Linked DNA regions of Homo sapiens. The protein of the gene in region 2 interacts with the protein of the main gene of each other region in a biochemical or structural test. Each region holds a gene or a part of one and is shown on either strand. Other genes may lie near its edges.

Region 1 (2,521 bases), on a different chromosome or scaffold from region 2:
TGGTAGAGGTTACGGGGTCACAGCAATTCTGTTCATCTGGTGGGCCCCAGGCAGGGTTCCAGCTGCCCCCTTTCCCAGCAAGAAACCCACTGACCTGCCAGAGTTGGTTGGTCCACATGAATTTCCTGCAAGCTCCTAGCACCCTGGGCTGGCCTGGCCTGTGCTAGAACCTGAGGATGAAGAGGAGTGAGGGTAATGGACCAGGGAGAAGTTAAGAGTAAACTGCCTGGGAAGCTCAGGTGGTCTCTCTACATGAGCAGTGAAAGGGATTATTCCAGGGGGAAGGGATAGGCCCTCAGTGCTCTCAATGCCTCAGCAATGTTTTGGGCCCATCCTCATCCCCAATTCTCCTACAAACACACATACCACCCCCAGAGAACCCCTGGCTCCCCTGCACCATAAAGCGACCCCCCTTCACCTGCGACCACTCACAGAAGCCGCCCTCCCTACCCCAGGTGAAAGTGGCCCCTCGGCCAACCCTCAAAGCCCCCTGCGTGTCCTCCCTGTCCTTGCCATCCCACCTTTCTTCATTGCGTCCCCCCATGTGCCAGCCTGACTCCTCCCAACACCACCCCAAATGCCGGGGCACGTCGAATTGTCTTTCTTTCGCCCGATACATAAATGGCCTTATTTTCTGAGCCCGAAAAGGGGACCCATGGTTTGACCATGGGCAGAATATTGGATGGGTACTAGCCAAGGCCTGTTACATGGGGAACACATCCCACAGTCAACAAACACCCGCTCTGAGCAGAGGCTCCTGGCAAGCCCAGCTCACCTCCGGGAAAGAAAGGCGAGTTTTAAACCATGGTCACCTTAGTCAAAGCACAGCCCAAGCCCCTTTATTGGTTGTGAGTTGGAAAGGGTCTGCCGGGGGTACAGAGTGTCCCCAGAGGGGCTGTGGCTGTGAATGCAAGGGATCGCTCTATGGGCTCCTTGGGATGCTGTGCTCAAAGTGATTCTTGGGTAGGGAGCCCTCGGGATCCCAGAGGTTTGTGGTCAGGAAGACTCTCAGATGTCATGGATTCGGAGTCGCGCTGCAGAGGGAAGTTCTGCCATTGAAAAACCAGCCGCATCTCAGATCCCTTCAGAAGAGATGGATTTTCTTCCAGGAGGGTTCCCCCTGCCATGCCATCCATGGCAGCATCCCTAACCGCTCTTTGGGAGGCCTAAGGAGGTAAGAGCCCTCTCTCCCAGCCTCTGTCCTCCCAGCCCTGGAGTCCTTGGGCCCCTTCTATCTGACTCAATCCCAGTGTTGTTTGTCCAGCTGCCCATATTCACCTGGGCATCCCAGCTGCAGGCCCCTGCCCCCTTGTTCCAGCTGTGTCCCACATGGAGAAGGTCCATGTGGACACCAGACAGCCCCCTGGAGTGCAGAGCCCGAGCTGTCACATTGCATTTCCCAGATTTCCTGGAGGTGGTTGGCCTAAAGTGCTAAGTCTCTACAGCCTCCCTCACCTTGTCCTGGCCACACTACACTCTACCTCTCCATTCAGTCAGGTCAAATCTTTAGCAAATCAAAAGAAATTAAATCCCCAGTGGCAGCTCCAGAACCTCCACTGGGTCTAGAACCATTTGGCATCCCTGATGAGGACTCTGGGGTTTTGGGTAAAAGCGTTGGGCTTAGAGTAAGAGGACTTGGTTGAATCTACTACTTTTCATCTTGGACAAGACATCTCATTTTTTTCAAAGCCTCAGTTTCCTCATATGTAAAATGAAGCTGTATGTAAAACAGGGCTAATTTCAGCTTAACTTATATGAAGCCTTCCATACTGTGCCTGGCACACAAGAGAGCCCAGTCTTCTCTCTCCCTTCAGAGCTGTTTATGCAGGCTCCAGTCACAGCTATTCCCGGATCCCTCACTAACCCACCCTGCTGATTCTCTGGCTTCCTGTTAATAACAACAGCAACTCCTTGTGGGGAGTCTATGGTTGGCTCAGTACTGTGCTATCCTTGCATTTGCTCAGTGTTGAAGAACTTGGGATGAGTGAGGTACCCAGCGTTCAACGTGAATTAAAGGCAGAGGGAGAAGGCCAAGCCAGAGCTCTGGGGCATCAGATGGTCCCTTCCAGCCCACGGCCCCAAAGTGAGTTTGTCGGCTACTCAGCTCTGATGTTCTTGGGAGAAAGCCCAGCCCCGGGATGCCTCCTTCCCCAGCCAACCCCAAAGCCTGAGATGAAGAGCAATGGTTTATTGAGTCATGTGGTAATGGCAGGTTGTCTTTAAAAAAAGAAAGAAGCATCAAGGAGAGAAGCCCCACAGGGCAAAGAGAGACATTTCACTCAGAGGCCAAAGTCTGGGGGTTAGAAAGAAGGAAGCTTGACCCAAACAAAGTTTCATTTACAGTATATACAGTCAGGCCTTGGGGGCAGGAGCTGCTGGGGAGCAGAGAGGGACCCTCTATCGCTGGCTTCAGGGGGTGCCTTGGGTCCCTTCAGTAGCTGGTGGGCGTGAGCTGCAGGAAGCACATTTGGCTTGGCAGGAGCTGTCAGGAAGGGGAAGCGGGTTTCCTGCGATTCTGCCT
Region 2 (4,118 bases):
GCTGAGACTACAGGTGCGCACTACCACACCTGCTTAATTTTTGCATTTTTAATGGAGACGGAGTTTCACCATGTTGGCCAGGCTGGTCACAAACTCCTGACCCCAAGTGATCTGCCTGCCTCAGCCTCCCAAAGTGCTGGGATTACAGGCGTGAGCCACTGTACCTGGCCTCAAACTTTAATGTGTATATGAATCCCTAGGGATCGTGTTAAAATAGAGATTTTAATTCAGTAGCTCCAGGATGGGGCCTGAGATTCTGCATTTCTAAAGCTTTCAGGTGATATGGATTCTGCAGGTCTGTGATTCACACTCTGATACCAGAATACTTTGGGATTTCTGGATCTACACCTAATTTTCTAAATTTGTAAATATATGTTTTGGCACTTTTCATCAATACAGCTGTAAATGATTCATATTTCTTTTATATCAGATGCCAAATAAACCCAACTCAAGTCAACATTTATGAAAGTCCACTGTGTAATGAGCACTGTCCTAGGTGCTGATAGAAAGATTAAGTATTCAGCCATTTGAGTACACAGTATAGGAAAATGAGATAATATAGTGTCCCTTATGACAGGAACACAGGATAGAAGCTAAAAATGTGCTGAATTGAGAATAAACGGACATAGATTGAATCAAGGCTATAAGTCAATAAGAAACATAAAATGATATGAAAACTGACCCAGTCAATTATAAAATAATCATTTGGGATCCCAAAGGGCTGGATATAAAAACAGGGACAGGCTGAATTTTTTTGCTTTTTTCTTTTCTAAGCCTGGGTTTGTATAAAGAGTAAAGGAGGGGCAAAAGCTCTAAAGAATGGTCAGATAGGCCAGGCGCAGTGGCTCACACCTATAATCCCAAAACTCTGGGAGGCCAAGGTGGGAGGACTGCTTGAGCCAAGGAGTTAAAGACCATGCTGGGCAACATAGTAAGACCTCGTCCCTACAAAAATATTTTAAAAATTACCCAGTGCAGCGGCGCCCACCTGTAGTCCAAACTATTCAGGAAGCTGAGGTGGGAGAATTGCTTGAGGCCAGGAGGTCAAGGCGGCAGTGAGTCGTGTTTGCATCATTGCACTCCAGTTGAAAGAAAAGACAAGACAAGACAAGGAAAAAGAAAAAAAAAAAGAAAGAAAAAGAAAAGTAGATAGACCAAGGGCAAAAGGGTCAGGGTCAAAATAAAGGAAAAAAAAATCTGAAAATAATTTATGAGATAAATTAATAGTAATTTGAAAGGCAATATGCAGTTACAGTACCAAAGACATCATAAGCAATTTAAATTTCTAAGTTTCAAGAAATTGTTCCAGTGACAAGACCTATATCTAAATTCTTTAGCTACTATCTTAAATCTTACCTTTAAGAGCCTGGAGGAATTATGTCAACAAAAATGAAAATAAGGCAAAGATTATCTGTATATAATAAAAATTAAAGCTATTTTAAGAAAGTGAATTTTGGTACATTTTGAAAAATAATTATATAAAAGACTAGAATGCAATTCCATTTCCAGGAATGTACCTTATAGAAATACTTGCACAAGGACAAAATTATATATGTACAAGGCTATTCACTGCAGCATTTTTGTAATAGGAAAAGGTTAAAAACCATGTGAATGTCCATCAATAAGGGACAGGTGTCATCCCAGGGATGCTGGAATGATTTAACATATGCAAGTCAATAAATGTGATGTATCACATAAACAGAATTAAAAACAAAAACCATATGATCTCAACAGATGCAGAAAAAGCATTCAACAAAATCCAGCATCCTTTACAATAAAGAACTCAACAAATGAGGCATAGAAAGGACCTAACTCAAAATAATAAAAGCCATATATGACGACAAAGCCAACATCATACTGAATGGGGAAAAGTTGAAAGCATTCCCCCTGAGAACAGGAACAAGACAAGGACATCCACTTTCACCACTCCTATTCGACATAGTTCTGGAAGTATTAGCCAGAGGGAAAGTAGGGGAAAGCAATAAAGTGTATCCAAATTGGAAAAGAGGAAGTCAAACTATCACTGTTTGCAGATATTATGACTATATACCAAGGAAATCCTAAAGACTCCAACAGACTCTTAGATTTGATAAATGAAATCGGTAAAGTCTCAGGTTACAAAATCAATGTACACAAATCAGTAGCACTGCTATATACCAAAAACGTCCAAGCTGAGAATCAAATCAAGAGCTCAATCCCTTTTATAATAGCTGCAAAAATAAAAAATAAATAGAATACCTAGGAATATGCTTCACCAAGGAGATGACAGATCTCTACAAGGAGAACTACAAAATACTGCTGAAAGAAATCACAGATGACATAAATGGAAACTCATCCCATGCTCATGGATTGAAAGAATCAATATTGTGAAAATGACCATACTGCCCAAAGCAATCTACAGATTCAATGCGATTCCCATCAAAATACCAAGATCATTTTTCACAGAATTAGAAAAAACAATCCTAAAATTAATATGGAACAAAAAACAGCCTGAATAGCCAAAGCAATTCTAAGCAAAAAGACAAATCTGGAGACATCACATTACCAGACTTCAAATACACTACAAGCCTATAGCTACCACAACAGCATGGTACTGGTTTAAAAGTAGGCACATAGACCAATGGAACAAAATAGAGAACTCAGAAATAAAGCCAAATACATACAGCCAACTGCTCTTTGACAAAGCACACAAAAACAAAAATTGGGGAATGGACATCCTATTCAATAAATGATGCTGGGAAAACTGGCAAGCCACATGAAGAATGAAACTGGATCCCTAACTATCATCCAATGCAAAAATCAACTCAAGTTGATAAAAGATTTAAATATAAGACCTGAAACTATAAAAATTCTAGAACATTGGAAACAGTCTTCTAAACACTGGCCTAGGCAAAAAATTCATGACTAAGACCCCAAAAACAAACGCAACAAAAACAAAAATAAATAGATGGGACCTAATTAAACTAAAAAGCTTCGGCACAGCAAAACAAATAATCAACAGAGTAAACAGACCACCCACAGAATGGGAGAAAATATTTGCAAACTATGCATCCAACAAAGGACTAGTATCCAGAATCTACAAGGAACTCAAATCACAAAGAAAAAAAAACAATTGCATTAAAAACTGAGCAAAGGACATGAATAGACATTTCTCAAAAGATACACAAATGGCCAAAAAACATGAAATAATCATTAATAATTCAACATCATTAATCATCAGGGAAATGCAAATTAACCACAATGAGATACCACCGTGCTCCTACAGGAATGGTTATTCTTAAAAAGTCAAAAAATGGGCCGGGCGCGGTAGCCCCCATCTGTAATCCCAGCACTTTGGGAGGCCCAGACGGGCGATCACCTGAGGTTGGGAGTTTGAAACCAGCCTGACCAACATGGAGAAACCCGTCTCTACCAAAAATAACAAAATTAGCTGGGCATGGTGGCGTGTGACTGTAATCCCAGCTACTTGGGAGGCTGAGTCAGGAGAATTGCTTGAATCCGGGAGGCGGAGGTTGGGGTGAGCTGAGATCACGCCATTGCACTCCAGCCTGGCAACGAGAGCGAGACTCCATCTCAAAAAAAAAAAAAAAAAAAGTCAAAAAACAATAGATGTTGGTGTGGATGTGGGGAAAAGAGACCGCTTATTACACTACTATACAGCCTCTACAGAAAACAGTATGGAGACTCCTTGAAGAGCTAAAAAAGATCTACCATTCAATCCAGAAATTCCACTGCTGGGTATCTACCCAAAGGAAAGAAAGTCATTATATGAAAAAGACTTTTGCACATGTATATTTATAGCAGCACAACTCACAACTGCAAAGATGTGGAACCAATCTAAGTGCCCATCAACTGAGTGGATAAAGAAAATGTGGTATATATAAACCATGGAATACTACTCAGCCATTAAAAGGAACAAAATAATGTCTTTTGCAGCAACTTGGATGAAGCTGGAGGCCATTTTTCTAAGTGAAGTAATACAGGGGTGGAAAACCAAAAGCCGTATGTTCTCACTGTGTAAGTGGAAGCTAAGCTATGAGTATGCAAAGACATAGGTATGAAGTGATATAATGGACTTTAGAGACTCAGAAAGGGGAGGGTGAAAGGGGGCTAGGAAT

Evidence for each region.
Region 1: the proteins of ANXA7 (region 2) and PAX8 form a complex in vitro, tested with the Homo sapiens proteins (one large-scale study listed by BioGRID).

What each region holds. Positions count from the first base shown.
Region 1 is NC_000002.12:113,215,189-113,217,709, forward strand, and holds the end of PAX8 (paired box protein Pax-8), read right to left. Parts: 3' UTR 809-2,521; downstream 1-808. UniProt on the Homo sapiens protein: Transcription factor for the thyroid-specific expression of the genes exclusively expressed in the thyroid cell type, maintaining the functional differentiation of such cells.
Region 2 is NC_000010.11:73,407,207-73,411,324, forward strand, and holds part of ANXA7 (annexin A7), read right to left. Parts: intron 1,113-4,118; exon of another isoform or gene 970-1,112; intron 1-969. UniProt on the Homo sapiens protein: Calcium/phospholipid-binding protein which promotes membrane fusion and is involved in exocytosis.